Regions from separate parts of the Homo sapiens genome. Here regions 2, 3 and 4 are each linked to region 1. The links come from fine-mapping of genetic effects on gene expression. A gene starts in region 1. Each other region holds a variant in brackets. All regions are shown on one strand. Distances are from middle to middle. Region 1 holds the start of ADPGK (ADP dependent glucokinase). Region 2 overlaps BBS4 (Bardet-Biedl syndrome 4). Region 3 overlaps BBS4 (Bardet-Biedl syndrome 4). Region 4 overlaps BBS4 (Bardet-Biedl syndrome 4).

The links. PIP is the estimated chance that this variant, and not a neighbour inherited with it, causes the effect. A credible set is the group of variants that fine-mapping cannot tell apart.
Region 2: its variant is the best candidate, but not a certain one, in a credible set for the expression of ADPGK in whole blood (INTERVAL, PIP 0.82).
Region 3: its variant is the best candidate, but not a certain one, in a credible set for the expression of ADPGK in whole blood (TOPMed, PIP 0.56).
Region 4: its variant is the best candidate, but not a certain one, in a credible set for the expression of ADPGK in blood mononuclear cells (TOPMed, PIP 0.70).

The regions. Positions count from the first base shown.
Region 1 is chr15:72,782,272-72,784,957 of GRCh38, reverse strand. It overlaps ADPGK (ADP dependent glucokinase), which reads left to right and starts at 1,200. Exons shown (of 7, transcript NM_001365225.1): 1 at 1,200-1,499. The coding sequence starts at 1,267. It overlaps ADPGK-AS1 (ADPGK antisense RNA 1), which reads right to left and starts at 2,123. Exons shown (of 3, transcript NR_040107.1): 1 at 1-2,123. RefSeq lists enhancers at 675-884, 935-994, 1,755-1,824 and a silencer at 1,045-1,504.
Region 2 is chr15:72,700,088-72,702,773 of GRCh38, reverse strand. The region is part of intron 2 of BBS4 (Bardet-Biedl syndrome 4); the gene reads right to left. Among named protein-coding and RNA genes, the nearest start is that of BBS4, 15 kb to the right of the region's middle. The variant G/C (reference allele first, on the strand shown) is at 1,640.
Region 3 is chr15:72,725,264-72,727,919 of GRCh38, reverse strand. The region is part of intron 8 of BBS4 (Bardet-Biedl syndrome 4); the gene reads right to left. Among named protein-coding and RNA genes, the nearest start is that of BBS4, 40 kb to the right of the region's middle. The variant C/T (reference allele first, on the strand shown) is at 1,014.
Region 4 is chr15:72,729,227-72,731,881 of GRCh38, reverse strand. BBS4 (Bardet-Biedl syndrome 4) reads right to left here. Exons shown (of 16, transcript NM_033028.5): 10 at 2,198-2,266; 11 at 425-577; 12 at 156-327. Among named protein-coding and RNA genes, the nearest start is that of BBS4, 44 kb to the right of the region's middle. The variant T/C (reference allele first, on the strand shown) is at 1,327.

The DNA.
Region 1 (2,686 bases):
GTGACAGGCAACTCTAGGGAAGATGGCTTTCATGGCTTCATAAAGATCTGACTGGCTCTTTGGCTTCTTTTCCAAGGTAGCCCAAATCTGTTCCTGTGTGAATATCTTTGTCGAAAGGGATGGCATGGTCAGGTAGGCTGGGTAGGATGAACTGCGGGAAGGTAGATGACCAGGATGGGGAAGTTCTGATGAGGTGGGGCTGAGGAGAATGAAGACTAATGCCCAAGATCAAAGTTAGGGAAATAAAGTTTCGCTGCCAAGTCCAAAGGTCAGGGTCACAGTGGAAAACTGGACACAAAGCCAAGGTCAGGAGCCGAGAGAATTGGAAAAGTGGAAACAAACCAGGGAACAAGACTAGGCCGGGCATTGTGGCTGATGAGAATGAGCTGGTACCCAGCCTAGCTTCACTGTCTCTCAACCTAGCCTCATGCACAGAAAAGTATCAGCGAAGAGAGGGCTGGGTTTAAGTGATGTCACCAAGGGGGAACAAAAGAAAGCAGCGTTTCTCAACCCAGGTCCATAACTCTCGTGTTGTGCACAAGATTGTGTACATTTTCCAGAGTTTGTTAAAGGGAACAGCGCCCCCAAAAGGGTTAAAGTTTGATTGTGGAATAATCTGGTTATCCAGAAGAGAACGATCTCTGCGGGCTCTCCTGTCTCGACGAAGTCCTTTAGTGGCTGAGGGTCTCGGCCACCTTCCAAAGGGGCGGAATCCCCCTGCCTCGCGTACCCCAGGGGTCTCGGCAGCGCCGCTATTCTGTGAGCCTATTCCTCTCAGAAGCGCCGAGCACTAGGCCTGGAAGAGGACAAGTCTAGCAAATGAGGGGACACGGGCGGAGGGAGGGATTAAAAGATGGGGGTGTGATCCGTGCCAATGGGGACACCCACTGGTTCGAATATTAACGCGAGGTTTGTCCGCTTCTTCACAATCTGTCCGTTTCGTTTTACTGCGAAAGCAAATGTGTTCCCATCCCTCTATTTGGGGATACGATTAGAGTTCCGGGAAGGGGGTGCAGCGCCCGGACTGGCACAACCGCCGTTGTCCCACCTCCTCCGGGGCGGCAACACCGCAGTGCCAGGCCTGGGACTGAGGCGTGGGGTCCCCCCTCGCTCCGTCCTGGCGCCGCCCGTCGCCCCGCCCCTTGGGGGGCCCCGTGGCGCACCCTTGTGACGTAGCGCTTGTGTCGACATCGGCGCGCGCCGAGCCCGGAAGAGGCGCGGGCTAGGAAAGGAGTTGGTTCGCGCAGGTGCGGCGCCTGGGTCCCCATGGCGCTGTGGCGCGGCTCCGCGTACGCGGGCTTCCTGGCGCTGGCCGTGGGCTGCGTCTTCCTGCTGGAGCCAGAGCTGCCAGGCTCGGCGCTGCGCTCTCTCTGGAGCTCGCTGTGTCTGGGGCCCGCGCCTGCGCCCCCGGGACCCGTCTCCCCCGAGGGCCGGTTGGCGGCAGCCTGGGACGCGCTTATCGTGCGGCCAGTCCGGCGCTGGCGCCGCGTGGCAGTGGGGTGAGTGCCAACGGGGCCTGGGTCTCTGAGCCTCCGAGGTCGGCCTTGGAGGTCGGGCGGAGCCGCGCAGAAACAGGGCTTCTCAGAGGTCCCCGGGAGGCGCTGCTGTCCGCGCTGGCCCCTTGGCGAGAAGTGTCGGACGTCTGAGTGGAACCCGGTTCGTCACCGCTGCTCTTTCCACTCGGCTGGCCTCTGCGCCTTTCTCTCATCCCGGTAGGACCAGCCCTAACAGCTTCTTGCTAATCCCGCTTTGTCTGACACCTTTCTCCGAGCCTTCTTCCTCGTTCCAACTTTTAGCCCCTTCTCTTCTGGCGACTGTTGTTTTGCAATCAAAGATACTTGACCTTACCCACTATGACAACACTCTTCCTCTTTCTTCTGAACTTCTTGAAGACGCGTGATGTCTGCCTTTACCCACTTTCGAAACGCCGTGTAGTCTAGAAACCACACGACTGTACTGCAACTCCTCTCAGATTTGCCTTTTTGAATCTTCATTATCTACTCTGCAGCCTTCCACGCATTGAACACGCCCTTCTCCGTGAAATTCTTTTCTTCCCCTGACTTCAGTGACACTGCATATTTAAGGTTCTTCCAAATGACACTACCTCCTTTCTTTGTACTTTTCCTTGGGAATGTAATTATTTTCTTTATAGTATTGATACTGTAAACACTAACTTTAGTCCCTGTCTCAGTTCGATTTGACTTTCTTGCCGTAATCTCAGAGTTATGTATAACCACCACATAAAAGCAGGCCCTCTACCATGTAGCTCACTACTTTCTGTGGAGTGTTGGGGCCGGGAGGGGTAAAGTAGAGCAAACTTGGCCTGAAGATTAAATGACATCATTCATGTAATCTCTCTAGCATAGTGCCTGCTTTAAAAAGCATTCGATATTAGCTATAATTTTGGGGTTTTTTTTTTTTTTTTTTTTTGGACACAGGGTCTCTCTCTCTGTCGCCTAGGCTGGAGTGCAGTGGTGCAATCACTGCTCACTGCAGCCTCGAACTCCCGAGCTCAAGAGATCCTTCTGCCTCAGCCTCTGGAGTAGCTGGGACGACAGGCAAGCACCACCACGCCCAGCCAATTTTTTATTTATTTTATTTTTTTTAGTAGAGTCGAGGTCTTGCTATATTGCCCAGGCTGGTCTCGAACTCCTGAGCTCAAGCCAGCCTCCCATCTTGGCCTCCC
Region 2 (2,686 bases), 82 kb after region 1:
AAGAGAAGGCAAGGAATGGATCTGAGGGCGAACAGGCCCAGGATCAAGAGAAACATCTACTCTGTTCAGGTACATAAATGATGATGAAGGAAGAGGAAGAGACTGGGCTGAGTCAGTATTGACTCAAGAATACATGCTAGAAGCTGGCCTATAATTTTTTAATTATATTGCTGCTATCCAGTTTGTTTGCTTCTCATTAGCTTGAAATGAGGAAGAAAAAAGTCATATAAAAGATTAGCTAATTATGGTTTTACTTTATAGCTTAGATTATTTTATTTCCTCAAAGCAAAATTTAACAATTATATCCTTCTTAAGGGTGTGTGTGCATGTATCTCAAAGTTTTTCTCTCTTATTATTCCACTGAATAGTCACGTAAGGCCAGTGAGTTATGCAATTCAGAGAACATTCTCACATTATAAAGGAGGAAATTAAGGCCCTAAAGGTTAAGTAAATTGTCCACATTCAACAAGTAGTTAATGGAAGAGGCAGGACTATAACCCAGGTCTCCAAGGTGACACATTAAACCAAGTTTCTGCCCAATCATAAAGGATTTTCTAATATTACAATGTAAATGTTTGGGCTGTCAATTAGACATAACTGAGCAACGCAACATTAATGATTTTAAAGCGGCCAGGCACAGTGGCTCACGCCTGTAATCCCAGCACTTTGGGAGGCCGAGGCAGGCAGATCACGAGGTCAAGAGATTGAGACCATCCTGGCCAACATGGTGAAACCCCATCTCTATTAAAAATACAAAAAAAAAAAAAAATTAGCTGGGCCTGGTGGCACACACCTGTAGTCCCAGCTACTTGGGAGGCTGAGGCAGGAGAATTGCTTGAATCCGGGAGGCAAAGGTTGTGGTGAGCGGAAATCGCACCACTGCACTCCAGCCTGGCGACAGAGCAAGACTCCGTCTCAAAAAAATAATAATGATTTTAAAGCTTTTCTATTATTTTTTTTAAAACCAGTGTTTTTCATATATCAAAGTAGGAAGACTTTCAAATGATTTTTAAAAATAACTAGTTGGTTTTCTTAAAAATACATACTTACAGTAAAACAAAATTCAAAGGGCACATAGGATACTAAACAAAAGACCCATTCCATTCCTATCCCTTACCAGAGGTGAAGCATTTCTTGAGTATTTTCAAGGAATTTCTATGCACATATAAGCATATGAGCAAGTGTGTGTGTGTGCGTTTGTACACCTTTATTTTACACATGGGGATTATATTGACCGCATTTTAAAAATTGCTTGCTAGTATTCACTGAGCCTAAATATATCCTTCCTGGTGACCCTGAAAATCCTACTCCTAAGTATGTATGTGTACCAAAAAACATGTACAAGACTCTTCATGGTGGCATTATTCATAATACATCACAATAAAAATATCCCAAATGTTCATCAAGTATAAAATGAATAGACTTAGGTAGAGCCCCACAATGGAATATATATAACAAGGAAGAAAACAACCAACCACTACTACATGCAACAACATAAATGAATCTCACAAACATAATTCTGAGCAACGAAGTTAGATATTAAAAAGTACACACTGCATGATTCCATTTACATTAAATTCAAAAGCAGGCAAAACTGATGTAGAAGATAGAAGTTAAATACAAGTTACTACCTTTGGGA[G/C]GGGTGGTTAATGACTGGTAGGGAATAAGGAGGCGGCCTGGAGGGCACTGATAATATTCTATACCTTAATCTAGATGGTGATTACATGGATATGTTTACTTTGTAAAAATTCACTGCACAGTACAATTATGATTTATGTATGTACTTTTCTGTATATATATTTCAATAGAAAGATATCAAAAATTACTGATTGAGCCAAATTAGACATTTTCTAAAACCAAAAAATTAATTTCTGCAATATTAATGCAGAAAAGGGAGAGGACACACAACTCAGTCTGGGGTAAGGATCAAGATTTCCTAGACAAGACAGAGAAGGCATTAATAACAAAAGAAAAATAATAGTAAATTGGCCTTCATCAAAATTAAAACTTTTGATCATCAAAAGATACCTTAATAAAATGAAAGTAGTAAAACACAGGCTGGGGGGAAATACTTACCACATATATAACAGACAAAGGACGTACATTCAGAATATATTAAGAAGTCTCACAAATCAATAATAAGGAAAAAAGAAATTTAAAAATAGGCAAAAAACTTGAGCAGACACTACACAAAAGATATGACCAATAAGTATATGAAAAGGTGTTCAACATCACTAGTCATTAGTGTAATGCAAATTAAAATCACAATAAAACACAATATACCCACCAGCAAGTCTAATATGAAAAAGACTGATAGTAACAAATGTTGGCAAGAATGTAGCCAAACAGAATCCTCACACGTTGCTGGCGGTCGGGTAAAACTGTACAACCACTTTGGAAAATACTTCGGCAGTTTATTATAAAGTTAAAACAAACAGTTCACATATGACCAAGCAATTCCACTCCCTAGGCACTTATTCAAGTGAAAACTTGCACACACATGCACACACAAAAAAAACCAGTAAATAAATGTTCAGGCCGGGTGCAGTGGCTCATGCCTGTAATCCCAGCACTATGGGAGGCTGAGGCGGGCGGATCATGAGGTAAGGAATTCAAGACCAGCCTGGCTAATATGGTGAAATCCCGTCTCTACTAAAAATAGAAAAATTAGCCGGGCATGGTGGCA
Region 3 (2,656 bases), 57 kb after region 1:
GAGGGAAACAAGATGTAGATGAGAAACACGAAGACACATGCACAGTAATATGCCCTCGTGCAATACTTGACAGACCCCACTGAGCCTCTTCCTCCCCGTGGAAATACCTGAAGGCAATTTGGGAATTGCCATCAAAAGTAGGTCATCTCAACCCTGGTGATAAGGAGAACTGCTCAGCAAGAAAAATGAGGCTTAGAATTCAGATTCCTTTCTTAGGGTAAAAGTCCTAAGAAAGAACCTATAGAATGTTTTGCATGACTGTCTTGGTCACACTGATAAAATTAAAGAACAATGCTTTATAAACCAAGTCAGCCTAGAACACACACAGTTTCACCAGTCCTCTCTTGTGGAATTTTTTTTCTATCCTCATTGTGCTCACAATGCCAGGCAGCATAATTTTCTATGTAATTTAGGATCCCAAGGCCCCTAATGCTGTTCTCTCCACTTAAACAAAGAGCTATACCAAGTAGCCAAACTAAACAAAAGAAGGAAGATACATACCAATCCTAGGAAAGAAGGTGCTACTGACCTTTGGGAGTAAACACTGATGTAAGTAAAATACTCACATCAGGGATTGCCTGCTCAATCCCTCACTAGTATTTGTCTTTGTCACAAAACCAAGGCAACACTGAGTTGAGATGATCTGACCATAGGATCATCAGACAGTTTCAACAGTAAAACACCAAAGGGCTATGAACAATGTCTTCTGCTTCTAAGGAATGATATAGGGCACTGGTTACCTATAGGAAGACCTGAACCAGAAGATGCAAAGCCCCAGCCAGGGGAGGCCTGAGCTGACCAAACAGAGCTTTCTCAATTCAACTGGGAATCCGCCTTTCACTTTCTGCCATAATAAACATCCACTTTGATCACTTCCCTCCCCAAAGCCAGGTAACTTCTGTAATTCTAGCAATATTGGCTTCCCCACTACAACATGACTACTCTCTTCAAAGCTGTAGGTCATGAACAATGGTCTCTATCTTCTCAGTAAGGCTTCAGATTTTAGCTGTCCA[C/T]ATTTCTCCCTTAGGAAATTTAGTGACCAAAGTCCTTGATCAGTTACTGGAAGAATGTTCCCCTTGGGATTTATGTATGCTATTCTCAAAGAGCTAACCTCTAGAAGGCAGGGGTCAGGGATCAGGGCTACTACCTAGCACCACAGAGGCACTGAACATGTTACATGGCTCCTTACTACTTGCCCAAATATACAGCCTCTTGATGACAAAAGTCTGTTCTGTAGCTTAACAAACCAAGGGATTTTTCTGTTTTAGACACAAAATATGGTTGAAGAAAATTCAGAAAGCAGTGCTGTGACTGATATAACCAGAAAATTTACTACCATGGTAGAAGACAAAGATGATTAACAAATTAATAGAAATCTAAGTTTAGTTCAGAATCTAATTATTAGGAATAATAAGCCTTGAACCACAGACCAGACATTCTATTAAGGGACCAAACAAATGAGACAAGGCATTTTGCTACAGCTATCCCATTTAAAAGTAACAACACAAGGCTGGGCGCAGTGGTTCACGCCTGCAATCCCAGCACTATGGGAGACCAAGGCAAGCAGATCACTTGAGGCCAGGAATTCGAGACCAGCCTGACCAACATGGTGAAACCCTGTCTCTGCTAAAAATACAAACATTAGCCAGGGGTGGTGGCGTGCTCGTGCAGTCCCAGCTACTCAGGAGGCTGAGGCATGAGAATCGCTTGAACCCAGGAGGCAGAGGTTGCAGTGAGGCGAGATCGCGCCACTGCACTCACCCCTGGGCGACAGAGCGAGACTGTTGAAATAAATGAAAGGAAGGAAAGAAAGGAAGGAAGAAAGGAAGAAAAGAAAGAAACAAAGAAAGATGGGAATGGGAGGGAGGGAAAGGATGGAAAGAAAAGAGAGAAAAAGGAAGGAAGGGAGAGAGGGAGGGGAAAGGGGAAGGGAGATGGGAAAAGGGGAAAGGGGGAAGGGAAAGGAGGAAGGGGAAAGGGGGAAGGGGAAAGGGGGAAGGGGGATGGGGAAAGGGGGATGGGGAAAGGGGGATGGGGAAAGGGGGATGGGGAAAGGGGGATGGGGAAAGGGGGATGGGGAAAGGGGGATGGGGAAAGGGGGATGGGGGAAGGGGGATGGGGGAAGAGGGAAGGAGGAAGGGGAAGAGGAAGGGGGAAGGGGGAAGGGGGAAAGGGAAAGGGGGAAGAGAAAAGGGGGAAGGGAAAACGGGGAAAGGGAAGGGGAAAACGGGGAAGGGGAAGGGAAAATGGGGAAGGGGGAAAAAAGATACTGGTCTCATGCTAATAAGGCCAAATGTTTTGTTTTGTTTTGTTTTGTTTTTTACTGAATCAGGAGATTTCTGTCCCTAATAATATCTCTGAAAACAGAAGATCTGTTATTAACATATGATACCAAAATGGCAGACTGTCGGCCAACTCTTAAATCTGTTATTTCCTTCTTCTTGAGTGCATGTCTGCCCACTTCCCTTGTAACTATCATGTAGTTTTGAACCATGGAATGTAAGCAGGAACGATGTGTGCAATTTCTGGGTCATTTAAAACTTATTACCAAGGCCAGGTGCAGTGGCTCACACCTGTAATTCCAGCACTTTGGAAGGCTGAGGCAGGAGGATCGCTTGAGCCCAGAAGTTTAAGACCAGCCTGGGCAACACAGCAA
Region 4 (2,655 bases), 53 kb after region 1:
TTCTATTTCTTCAAGCTCCAGGACAGTAATCCAGATTCCTACAGGATCTCTAAGGGAATGGCTCCTATGAGACAGCCACTGATCTTCTATGATTCTAATCCATTTTTCCCTCATTACAGATGGCAGAGAGAGTTTTCCACATAAATGTTTCTTACCTGCCAAGAGCATGTAGAGCTCCCCCATCTTTGGCTGGAAGTTGATGGCCGCACTGAGAAAATGAAAAGCTGATGCATACTGCTGCATGGTCAAATGGACAAGGCCCAAATTATACAGAATCTTCCAATCAAAGGGTGCCAAGTAGTTGGCTCGTTTCAGGCAGCTGATGGCCTATGAGAGAGAAGGGGCACTCAATGAGAAGGGCAAGCTAAACAGACCCAATAACCACATGTAGAAATACAAACAAAGAACATGAGGGGACACTCACCGCCACATATTTCTTCTTGCCAAAGAAACACATTCCAATGTTATTCCAGAGTGGAGGACTTTCTGGAACAGCACAAGCCACAACTCTGTATTTGGTGAGGGCAACATCAAAGTCCCCGTGGGTCTGCATCATGCTGCCTGCTGCCAAGATGGCCTGAAAACATGGCACAGAGAAAGTCATTCAGTCATTCCCAAAAGGCTGTAGCAGTGGGGCAGCTTTCCTGAGTCTATACTCAGCAGGCCCATCAGCATAGATGGGACTGGAAAATTTCTTCCAGGGACATAAATATATCCAACCTATTGGGACAAATGTTCCTGAGGAATGTCCTTGCACTCTACACTGTGGCTCTCTGGCACAGCACAAAAAAAAAAAAAAAAAAAAAAAAAAAAAAAGATAAAATGTTACTTGCTTTACCCATCTGTTTCCTACTTCTAGCCAGGAAAGTCAGTATTTCAGAATGAATACCAGAGCCCTTTAAGTAAAAACTTCCTTTAATCTGTTCTCTGCAGCCCCTATTTGGTATACCAAGTGTTCTAGATACCTGAAATACACCTGTACGTGGCTACTTAAGGTAAATTTCTTTCTACCGTAGAACAGAGGGCGAGTCAGCTTTAGGCTTCATCAGCCCAGCCCTTTCATTTCTCTAAGGAAAGGTATCAAGGTGGGAGCTGACAGTCTAATGTTACTTCCTAAATCAGAATTCAGTTTGTATCCTTTAATAAACAGCTTGTCTTGCTGCATCTCCTCAATGATGTTCATCCATTTGATGCTATTCCTTCTCATTCCCAAAGTCACATCTAGAAAAAAAGTTGTAGTATCAAATCATTAGGACTCTAGAAGTCATTTCAACATAATTATTGTTTCTTTTTAGAGACAGGGTCTCTGTCACCCAGGCTGGAGTA[T/C]AGTGGTGCCATCATAGCCCACTGTAGACTCAAACTCCTGGGCTCAAGTGATCTTCCCTCTTCCACCTTCCGAGTGGCTAGGACTACAGGTGTGTGCCACCATGCCTGGATAATTTTTTTTGTAGAAATGGGGGTCTCACTATGTGGCCCAGCCTGGTCTTGAACTCCTGGCCTCAAGTGATCCTCCTGCCTCAGCATTCCAAAGTGCTGGGATTACAGGCATAAGCCACCATGCCCAGCAGATTTATTTTTTTTATTTTTTATTTTTTTTTTTTTTGAGACAGAGTCTCGCTCTGTCACCCAGGCTGGAGTGCAGTGGCGCGTGATCTCAGCTCACTGCAAGCTCTGCCTCCCGGGTTCACGCCATTCTCCTGCCTCAGCCTCCCGAGGAGCTGGGACTACAGGCGCCCGCCACCACGCCCGGCTAATTTTTTTGTATTTTTAGTAGAGACGGGGTTTCACTGTGTTAGCCAGGATGGTCTCGATCTCCTGACCTCGTGATCTGCCCACCTCAGCCTCCCAAAGTGCTGGGATTACAGGCGTGAGCCACCGCGCCGGGCCGCAGATTTATTTTTGACAATAGTTGTGGAGGCATTGCTAATTTCCTAAGTAACACATAAGCTTTACTAGCACTATGATCTGCCTTCTGCAGGGGTTACACGTCTATTATAACAAATGTGCACTTTTAGAAGATAAGTAGAGCATACTTGACACTATTTTCAAATAAGAAGAGCCACCTTTTATTTATATTTTTTCTATTTCTCAGGTATCCAAATTTAAGAAGCTATTCCTTTGCTTTCCAGGGTCAGATCACCTCTAGGAGCAGTGGGACCGTCTATATGAAGGCCAGAGCCTTCACAGCCTGTAATACCTTGTAGTTGGTAGGGTCATAAGTCAGTGCATTGCCAAGATGTTCAAATGCCTTCTGGTAAATGCCGAGCTTGGAAAAAAAGCAAACAAGACAATTTACATCAGCAAGGAGACGGCAGTTAAAAGAGTCTGGCCAGACCAGGCGTGGTGGCTAATGCCTATAATCCCAGCACTTTGGGAGGCTAAGGTGGGTGGATCACCTGAGGTCAGGAGTTCGAGACCAGCCTGACCAACATGGAGAAACCCCATCTCTACTAAAAATACAAAATTACCCAGGCATGGTGGCACATGCCTGTAATCCCAGCTACTTGGGAGGCTGAGGCAGGAGAATCGCTTGAACCCAGGAGGCAGAGGTTGCAGTGAGCCGAGATCACGCCATTGCACTCTAGCCTAGGCAAAAAGAGTGAAACTCCGTCTCCAAAAAAAAAAAAAAAAAAACAGTCTGGCCAACCTCACCCA